Regions from separate parts of the Homo sapiens genome. Here region 1 is linked to region 2. The links come from fine-mapping of genetic effects on gene expression. A gene starts in region 2. The other region holds a variant in brackets. All regions are shown on one strand. Distances are between the middles of the regions.

Region 1 (5,372 bases), 42 kb before region 2:
AAGAAACTTAAGAGACCTATCAAACAACCCAATGTGTAAAGTCATTTGCATTCTGATTCAAGAAAACCAGCTGTGAAGAAAGTAGCGTGAAATTCATATGATTGAAAGTTGTAATACTTCCTGGATAGTTGATGCCATTTAGGAATTATTGTCAGTTTCTTCGAGATGTGATAATGGTTGTCTAGTTATGCTTTCTGAAATAAGAGTCCTTAGCTTTTAGAGAAGAATAGTGAAATATTTACAGATGAAATGACAGACATGCAGGATTTACTGCAAATATTACAGGAGGGGTAAGGTAGGTTTGGGCATAGAGAAAAAGATTGGCTGCGAGTTGGTAATTACTGAAGCTGGGTGAAGTATGTGGAGTTTCATTATGCTAGTCTATCTACTTGTGGGTATATTCCAAATTTTCCATAATAAAAAGTTAAAAAGCAAAAAAAAGAACCATCATCTCCACCTGAGGTTCTGGCCCAGACTGCTTATGTTCAAATCTCAACTCTAGTCTTGCTAGCTGTGCCTCTGTTTGCTCGTCTGCAAAATGGGGATGATAATATTAGTCCCTACATTGCAGGGGTTTCTCTGTAATGTGCTTAAAAATATGGAAACAATATAAATGAAATGAAGATATGTTGCAGGCACTTTGCACATTGTCACGGTGCTCCCAGTGCCTTGTTCCAGGGAGGTTATCCTTATTTACCAAGAGGTTAAGTCACCTGCCCTAGGTCTTCCAGTCAGTGGAGGCAAAGCCAAGACATGTCCCGAGTTCATCTGACTTCTGAGTTCAGGCATGACCTGAATGTTCTTGCCTCGGGCTCAGGGCTCAACATTTCCTGTCTTCTCTGCTTCTCCAGTCCTGAGAGATTCTGGGCCCGTTTCCCTGCAGATCAGCTCTAAGGAACATGCTTCTCTCCTGCTCCTTTCTAGAAAAGGCGTAACATTGGCAGAACCAGGAACTCTGGAATTCTGAAGGTTGACTCCCTCAATTCCAAGGGGCTCCACCTCCTGAGCGGAATTGGATAGAAGACAAAGGTCACATGGCTAGGGTGAGGCTTTGAGATGGGCGAGACTGTGAGCAGGACTGACAGGTCAGGGCCAGGACCCAGGATCTTCAGAAGCCACAGGGAGCAAGGCAGGGAGCAGCCTCCTTTGTGCCACACCCAGTGAAGGGGAACTTGCTAAGACAGATTTGTTCCTCCCATCTCCAGAAGAGCCGTTGGATGCCAATGGGTGAGGAGCTGAACCTCTGCAGACTCAGTGTGCTGATCCCATTGCCTCTGCTTGCATGCCTCTCAGGATGGGGAGTTCACTGCATCCCCCTCTTTAAAGACATTACGGTTGTACAAAGGTCTCCAGAATCATCTGTTACATCCCCTCATTCTCCCAATGAGGAAATTAAAGCTCAGAGATGCCGAGGCATTTACCCAAGGGCACACCTGGTCCTGGGCCTACGACCCTTAGACAATATTCCTTCCACCTCTTTGCTATAGAGTCTCAGACTAGGGATCTTGGCTGGCTGAGAAATCAGGGAAGGCTTCTTAGAGGAGGTGAGATTGGAGGTGGCCCTTGTAGGGTGGCACTAAGATGTCGCTTGATATCCTAATTTTTTTTTTGGCCCTGCCCACCATGTGTGTGCCTGTGCTGCCATGTCACACTAAGCAGAGTAAAATGAAGGAAGGAACGGATGAAAGGGGCAGGAAAGCGACTCCCAGGAGCTGAAAGGGCAATAGTATAGGTCCCTTCAGCACCTAGGATATGTTGTGGGAAGCCCTTAGACCCCAGATACTACCCTGTGCAGATAGGGATAAAACTCCACCTGTCCCAGCTCAGTGCTCTCCCCGGCTCCTCTGGCCTGCTTGCTGGGCAGGGCCCAAACCAGTTCAGGATTCCTTTTTCTCTGTGACCTACCAGTTAGGGTTCTCTGTTTACTGTGTCTCCTCCTCCTTGTTTTGTATACCCAGCTGGGTGGGAAGAAGGTCACAGCCCAGGTTTGCACGTGGTGGAGGAGCAGGGCCAGTAACTGGTTAGGCAGAGACCCCGCCCACCACCCTCCACTCCCACCCTAGCAGGGCCTGTGCCATCCCCAGGACACCGGAGACCACCAGGGGGCTGGAGAGGCTGCGGGAGAAACAGCCTTCCTGGACACACCCAGCTACGGCTCACTTCCCAGCCTGAGCTGTTCCTTAGGAATTGCTTTTCTGGGAAACACACCCTCTTCCAGACCTGCAGCCTTCCTTTCTATGTGGTTTTTGGTTTTGCTCTCTGGTGAGGGTTTCTATTTTTTCCTGGTATACATGAATGGCATGCAGGAAAGTGGAATGAGGACATCATGACCACCATGCAAAGGCCATTGCTCTTAAGGTTTGATGTAAGCTCCCCACTCTCCACCCCCACTACCCCTCTGCCTCGGCCTGGGGTATGAGGTCTTGGTTTTGACAATCAGACAATGTTAGCACACTGCTGTGTCTTCCACCTGCAATGGAGCACTGTAGGACGATTTTAAAAAGCAAAGTGGCAGGCCAGGTGCGGTGACTCAAGCCTGTAATCCCAGCACTTTGGGAGGCTGAGGCGGGCGGATTACCTGAGGTC[G/A]GGAGTTCGAGACCAGCCTGACCAACATGGAGAAACCCCCGTCTCTACTAAAAATACAAAATTAGCTGGGCGTAGTGGTGCATGCCTGTAATCCCAGCTACCTGGGAGGCTGAGGCAGGAGAATTGCTTGAACCTGGGAGGCAGAGGTTGCAGTGAGCCGAGATCGTGCCATTGCACTCCAGCCTGGGCAACAAAAGTGAGACTTGGTCTCAAAAAAAAAAAAAATTACAAAGTGGCTGAATACCAAGATCCTAGGAACTAGGTTCAGCCAAACTGGCTGTGTGTCCTGGTAGAATGCCCACCCTCTGTCTCTGGGCCTCCATGCCCATCTCTGTAGCATGAGGGATTCTGATGAAATAATTTCCAAGAGCCCTTCCCACACTAATACTCCAGGATTCTGTAAGGTTAATTTGGCAAGAATTCCAACGGCGGAAGAAAGATGGAGGGAGGAATATGTCCAGTCTAATAACCCTATGCTCAAGTCAGAAAGCCCCTCGGGCAGTGTCCGAGAGGGCTACAGCCCTGGCCCCAGAACCTGAGTCCCTCTAACCTGGGTCAAACCCCTAAAAGCCACTCCAGCAAGAGACAGGCAAAGCCCGGGCTCTTGCTCCAGGCTGGCATTGCCTTGCCGTGTGGCTGTAGACATCGTTTCACCTCTCGAGGCCTCAGTTTTCCCTTCTGCAAAAGACAGGCTGGGGGAGGTTGGGCATTTTCTTCTTAACTACCAGGAGTCTTTCCTCCAATAAAATTGTGATGGAAACCGGATGTCACACAAAGGGAAAGGAAACACTGGCATTTCTGGAGTGTTTGAAGCATGTGAAGTATTGTTTAAGGGCTTTGCAATCATTAATGTACTTTGTGCTCACATTAACCCCACAAAGTAGGTGCTATTATTATCCCCATTTGACACATGAAGAAACTGAGGCCCTGAGGAGTTAAGCCACTTGTCCAAGGTAAAGAGTGGGAGCTGGGCTTCTGATAGGGAGTGGGCCTCAGTCATGAAACCACAAGACTTGTGTAGTTCCAACCCCCTGGGGACATCTCCAGGCACTTGACCCATGCTCTTCCAACATTCATGTATGCACGCACACGTGTACACACACGTGCACACACAAACACACACATGTGTGCACAAACACATGCATGCACACACAAACACATGCATGCACACACAAACACACACACATATATACACACACCAACACAAACACACATGTGCACAAACACACGTGTGCACACAAACACACACATGCACACACACACACAAATGCACACACATGCGTGCACACTGTGGCTACTCCTCTGTAGCCTGCTGGCCACACTCGGCTCAAGCCCCAAATCAAAGGTGACTAGCAAGATTGCGAGACAGATTTCTGGAGATGGGAAACTGCGTCATCAAATTGTCTCAGGGACGGAACACCCATCAGAGCCCTGGGGGAGAGAAGAGACACGGGGTGGCTGCCAATTTTGCTGACCTATGCTGCTGACTTTCCAGCAGCCCCCGACTCCTGTGGCCAGCTGAGCCCAGGTCCAAGCTGCCCCCTGCACAGGGCTTGTTCCCTGGAGGGCTATAAGCCACAGCATCCCCTCCAAGACAGCCAGTCCTGTGAACCTGCTCAATCCCTCACTATTCCTTGGGGCCTGCCCTGGGAGAAGGGAGAGTTCCCTGGACCCCTTCTTGGGACTTGCGGTGACAGGGGTGTGGCTCACTTGCTCAAATCCCTTGTGTGAGGGGAAGCATGCAAGCAAGTGGGTGCTGGGGCCGGGGCAAGCGCTTTTGGGCTCTGGCCCTACAGTACCGTCTAGGGTTGTGTTACAATTAATGCTCTTTTAGAAGTTGCCATTCACTGATGGCTAAGTGTTAACCAACTCAGTGGAGAGTGAGGGTGACAGCCTTTTACACCCTGCCCTCTTGGTACCTGGGTCCTTGTCTGGCATCCAGGAAGAATCAGGTCACACGGACTTGAAGGATGGTGAATGCAGAGGTTTTATTGAGTGATGGAGGTGGCTCTTAGTCGGGTGGGGAGCTGGAAAGGGGATGGAGTGGGAAGGTACTCTTCCAGATGGCTGAACTCTTCTCCAACTGTCCAGCTGCCTCTTCCACATTCAGACACTTCTTCTCTTCTCTCCTTCTCTGCCATGCTGCTCTGCTCCTCTGCCAGTGGAGTTTGGGGTTTTTATGGGTATAGGATGGGGGGCATGGTGGGCCAGGGTGGTTTTGGCAAAAGCAACACTCAGGTGGGAAAACAGGAATGTGAAGTTCTCATTTAGGGCCGTGGGCCCAGGCTTGTGGGTGGGGCTTTTGCCAGAGAGCTGTCCTCCTCTACCCAGTATTTCCCTGCCTCCTGTCCATATCACCTGCACCAAGAACCTCACTGGGTGGGAGCCAATCCAGAGCCAGAGAAAGGACTTGACACTTGGCCTCAGGCAGACCCAGGCTTGAATCCTGGCCCTGCCTCTGATGAGCAGGGTGACCTGAACTGTCTCAGGTTGCCTCGCTGACTCTGCTTTCCCATCTGGAACATGGGAATAGCAATGCATCAGCCACTCAGTGCAGTGTTGAGGCTGGAACAGGTGGGGCACACTGTGAGCTCCATTTCCTTTTGCCTCCACCCAGCAATTATGTCTGCTGGGGAGAAGAGGAGAAATAAGGATCACACCCTGCCCTCTATCAGTCAGTCAACGACCATTTATTAAACACCTACTAGGTGTCAGGCACTTGACAGAGAAATGAAATAACAACACAAGCAACTCTTATAGCTATACCCTATAATAAATGTTATAGA
Region 2 (5,372 bases):
GAGATGGTGTCTTCCTGCATTGCCTAGGCTGGTCTCAAACTCAAGGGCTCAAGTGATCCTCCACTTTGGTCTCCCATAGTGCTAGGATTATAGGCGTGGCCACTGCGCCTGGCCCCATTTGTATTTTAAGCCACCGAGTTTCTGGTAATTTGTCATAGCAGCAGCAGGAAACAAATAACAAGTATCGGGTAATGGCCTCTCTTATTACACTTCCATTTGTCTATTCAAAGCTTTCTAGGCTAACTGCCAGGAATACAGGGATGGTATAGCTAGAAGTTCTATATTCAAGGAACTTACATACATCTAAATATTATAATATAAAAAATGAAATGAGAAATTGCATGAACACACCACGGATCCAGCATCTTGCGCCTTCAGCGAGAAAGGGGATGGGTTCCCTCTCAGGTTAGCAGAGAAGACGCTGTGAAGGGAGTCAGCCGTGAGCCTGGTTTCCACAAAGGGTGCAATCTGGATACGTGGAGACAGGGAGGAAGGGCTGGCAGAGGCGGGAAAGGGTGAGCTGCTCACAAAAGAATGCTTGTGCATGCTCTTATTGAACGTGTAATGCATTGGTGCGGGTCTTGCTATGAGAGACCCAACGGTGAGCCTAACGGTGTCTCTACCCTCCAGGGGCTCACAGCAACCAGGACAATAATTAAGGGATTGTCATAGAGCAGGATGCCCGCCACCATCAGGGTGAGGGGTGCCGTGAGAACCAGAGCAGGGCTCCAGTCTGGGTGGCTGGGAGGGATGGTTAGAGAGGGGTTCCTGGAGGAAGAGACACATAAACTGAATCCCAAAAAATGAGAAGCTGGCCAAGCAAAATGGGGGAAAGGAGTGTTCCAGACAGAAGGAACAAAGTAGGCCCAGAGGCAGGTGGGGTTACAGGTTAGGAGGGAGAGGTTGAAGGATGGCAGAGGAGGAGGCGGGTCATGGAGAGAATTGGGGCTGGAGGAGAATGGACAGGCTGGGTCCACCATGGTCAGCTGGCAAAGACAGTTCACCCAGGAAGGATGGTGGGCTCCAGGCAGCTTTGAGGGCCCCATTGAAGCTGGAAAGCGTGGCTGTGTTGTGTGAATTTACTCTGATAATGCTCGACAGACCCAGGAAAGGATTGCTCTGGAGTAGGGTTTAGCCAGATAGACGGCCATACGTCATGGGAGTTGGGGATCCTGGTCAGACTCGGGGGAATGATGGAGAGGGAAGAAACGAGCACAGGGAGAGAAGGAAGTGAAGTGAGATCAGTGTGTTAAAGGATGGATATAGTGAGAGAACCTGGGTGACAGCAAGAAACAGAAGAAGAGCCAGGCGTGATCTTCTGTACACTGTGAAGGGAATCAGCCGTGAGCCTGGTTTCCACAAAGGGTGCAATCTGTAATCCCAGCACTTTGGGAGGCTGAGACAGGTGGATGGCTTGAGCCCGGGAGTTTGAGACCAGCCTGGGCAACATAGCAAGACCCCGTCTCTACAAAAAATACAAAAATTATCCAGGCGTGGTAGTGCGCACCTGTAGTCCCAGCTACTTGGGAGGCTGAGGCAAGAGGATCATCTGAGCCCAGGAGGTCAGGGCTACAAGCAGTGAGCCAAGATTGTGCCACTGCATTCCAGCCTGGCTGACAGAGTGAGACCCTGTCTCATTAAAAGAGAGAGAGGAAGGCATAGCCACAGAGCAGGAATGTTTGAGTAGAACATTCCAGAGGCAGAGCCATCTCAGGAGATGACAAGGACCAAGTGTATCCCTGGCACCAGGTGGCTGAAGTAGAGGGAAGAAGAAGGAGGTTGGAGACAACATAGAGAATGGAGAGGTCAGGTGGTGGGTGGGCCCTACCTGGGCCCTCACAGGCAGGCGGGACATTGTCAGGCCCTGGGGAGGAGAGAGTCCGTGGGCCAGGAGGCCATTCCAAGGTCAGTTTCCATGGAGTGGGGGAGAGGGTGTAGTGACTGGACTCCAAGACACTTGGGGGAATGGGGAGAATGGCAGTCCCCACAGCTGCACGGGAAGGGCTGGTCCTCACAGAATAGCAGCAAAGACTCATTCATTCCAGGAATGGAAAGAATGCCATGTTCTTGGAGCCTGGAGACAGGGTTTGAGAGGCTGGCAGCGGCTGGGCCACCAGGACCTCATCAGTGATAACCCTGTGATCAGTGTTCCAGCCCCTGCAGGTTTCCTGGAGAGCAGAGTGTCGTCAGAAGGCCTGGAGCTGAGCCAACAGGCAAGATCCAGCCTGCACATGTGTTTAATTTGAACCACATGGTATTTTTTAAAACTCCAAGCCCCCAGGCTCTTGAGTTGGTTACCAGTACTGAAACTCCCCATTGGGAGCCAGCTTTCCAGTTTCTTTTGAAAGTTTGGAACATCCAGCAACACTGATTCAATTTCATTCATTCAGCAGATATTTATTAAGCATCTACTTTGTCAGACACTGTTTTGGGCACTGAAAATATGGCAGTGAACAAAAGAGAGGAACATCCCTGGGCCCTTGGAGTTGACCTTCCAGGGTCCCCCCGGGGCTCCAATTCTTTGGTGCTGTGTAGCAGAGGCCCCGTGAACAGGGCGCCCTCCCATCAGGTTCACACGCATGGAAGCTATGGGAGGTTAAGTTTGCAACCCCTCATCCAGACCATCCCTTCACATACAGTCTAGGAAACAGAGAGCAGTAAGACCTGCCCAAGCACACCCAGTGCGACTCAGCAGCCACACACAGGAGTAGGCTCAGTCATCTCATTTAATCGCCTGACTCCCTTGTGAGGTCTGTTTCAGGATGTCCACTTTCTAGGTGAGGAAGAGGAGGCTAAGGAAGGCAGTGCCTGCTCAGACTGCAGAGGCTGGATTCACCCAACTCATCTGACTCCAACACCAATGTGATTTCCAAGCCCCCAGGCAGGAATTCATTGGGCAAAGGCTCTGTGGCAAAGTGGCAAAAGTAGGCAGGAACAGGCAGGAATAGAGAGTGGGAAAGGGAAAATAATACCTGATTCCTCTTCTATTCCGAGTGAGCTGACCCACATATGCCCTCCTTTCTTCTTTTTCAGCCGGCCTTAAGCAGGTGGCTTATCAAAATCCTTTCGAGGTCTTGCAAAAACCAATCCCACACTCGAGAAGAACGTGCTGGCCGGTGAAATCGGACAACATTGCTCACGGGATGTAATTCAATGGTAGACTGCAGCCACAGCCTGAGAACTCAGACACCTGATTTATGAGACGCACATAAGTAACGTTTACCGAAGCCCAGCAAATGGCCCCACAGTGGGAGAGAAACTGGCAAACCCGTACAGTAGAATTCTGTTGCCCTTCTGTGGGGAAGGCCAGTTATTCATTTACAGAGGGAGAAATTTCTGCCTTGACTAAAAGGATCGATGCTGTGGGAAAAGGTAATATATCTGAGTTCCCATGGATCTGGTTGATAGGTTCACCTGGCGTGTTCCATATGGGGCCAGGCCCAGGCCACACCTGTGGTGCTAACACCTGGGGTGGAGGGAGGAATTAGCAAATAGTCTTCCAGCATCCCCAGCTCCAGCACCCATGTGGGCTTCCACTCTCTCCCTGAGAAGGGCCAAGTAGAAAGAGAGAACAAGGTTTCACTCCAATCCGTTCCCAGCTCTGGGTCTGTCCTGGGCTCCAGAACCGCGTGATCAGGGGCCATATGTGGCCTTCACTGCTCTCTGCAGTGGGAAGGTAAGAAAACTGCCCCCACCCTGCCCCATCATCACCCCAATCCATCATGGGGAGTGGGTGGCACTAAGGCCCTCCAAATCCCAGCCTCGGGGAAACTCCCTGATGTTGCAATGGCCACAGGCAGGCTCTTGCTCTCCGGAGATGAGTCACAAATTTGATGAGGAGCAGGTCGGAAGCAGCCCTGGAAAGTGTTCCTCCCCACCCCTGCTCCCACCACAGCTCCGAGGAGCCTGGGCATCCAACCAGGGCTGATCCAAGCCTTGGCTCCGGCTGAGCTCCGCTCTGGCCTCTGTGCACCTTCAGCTCCTTCCTGCCCTTCTCTTTCCCTGTGCCCAGCCCCTTTCTCCAGACCCCCTTGATTCCTTCTCAGCATCCTCTTGCCTCCCCGGACCACCCCCAGCTCAGGCCCCTGCCCAAGAAGGGCCTCACCGCGGGGCTGCAGAGTGCACAGTGCAGCCGGTCAGAGGTCCAGGTCTCTGAGTCACACATGCCACTGTTCCAGTCCTCACTCCACCACCGCATGGGCCTGGCCGACCACCGAAACTCGGCATCCCATCTGTAAAATGGGAATGAGGAGAGCAGTGCCTCACTGTGTCGTTGTGAAAATTAAGTGACCCAAAAGGACGGCCTTATTCCCTTTTTGGAAAGAGGTAATGGGCAAAGAAAGGGAAGGAAAGGCGAGAAAGGACAAGAGGAAGGTCAGAGATGTATGTGAGACACCAGGACAGCGCCACCCCAGCAAGCACCAACAACCATTTTCTCCTATGAGCAGAAGAGGCTTTAACTATGACTGAAATGAATGCATGTCAAAGCACAGTCTGAATAAAATCCCAAAAATGGTGTCCGTGTCACTCTCCTGGTTGTGATATGGCACGATCCTTGTGTAAGATGTTACTATTGGGGGAAACTGAGTAAAGAATAATGGGGCCGGGCACAGTGCTCATGCCTATAATCCCAGCACTTTGGGAGGCCGAGACAGGCAGATCACATGAGCCCAGGAGTTCAAAGACCAGCCCAGGCAACATGGTGAAACCCTGTCTCTAGTAAAAATACAAAAATTAGCCAGGCATGGGGGTGCACACCTGTAGTATCAGGTACTTGGGAGAATGTGGTGGGAAAATCAGTAGAGCCCAGGGTTCAAGGCTGCAGTGAGCCATGATTGTGCCATTGCACTCCAGCCTGGGCAATAAAGTGAGACCCTGTCTCAGAAAAAAAAAAAAAAAAAGAATGAGTACAAGGCATCTTTCTTATCACTGTATGCAAATCTACTAAAAACCTTAAAAAGAATGCATCATTAAGTTCAACCACTCTGCCTTACAGATGAAGAAACCAAGGTCCAGAGACAAGCAGACTTGTCCAAGGTCACCGAGTAAGCAGGGCTCCTGCTGAAGGGCTCTGTTCAGACCCAAGATGCCCGCTGGGCCCTGGTGACAGGTCTCAGTCTCAGGCTGAGGTCAGAGAAGAGGCCTGAGTGCCAGGGTTCTCATTTGAGTGGCCATGATGATTGCAGAGACTCCCTATGGCCAGGATTGTGTTTAAGGCAGTAAACAGGAAGCCAAGCCTACTTTTCAGGAGCTTCAGGGGACAGAAAACTATCAGGAAGGATTGGTTGGGACCCAGCAAGTACGAGAGGAAGACATTTCAGGGCTTCAGTCAACAAGGGGCTCAGTGTACTGTAGCTGCCAAAATAGCTGCC

Alleles and levels. Positions count from the first base shown, and alleles are read on the strand shown. Sizes are in standard deviations (SD) of each study's normalised expression.
In carriers of allele A in region 1, the expression in transverse colon of the gene that starts at base 3,184 in region 2 tends to be higher than with G alone (small effect, 0.35 SD a copy in GTEx).

Evidence for each region. PIP is the estimated chance that this variant, and not a neighbour inherited with it, causes the effect.
Region 1: its variant is fine-mapped to the expression of BDKRB1-AS1 in transverse colon (GTEx, PIP 0.97).

What each region holds. Positions count from the first base shown.
Region 1 is chr14:96,223,858-96,229,229 of GRCh38, forward strand. All of the region lies in intron 1 of BDKRB2 (bradykinin receptor B2), which reads left to right. Among named protein-coding and RNA genes, the nearest start is that of BDKRB2, 22 kb to the left of the region's middle. The variant G/A (reference allele first, on the strand shown) is at 2,587.
Region 2 is chr14:96,265,397-96,270,768 of GRCh38, forward strand. BDKRB1-AS1 (BDKRB1 antisense RNA 1) reads right to left here and starts at 3,184. Exons shown (of 2, transcript XR_007064322.1): 1 at 2,973-3,184. RefSeq lists an enhancer at 3,259-4,458.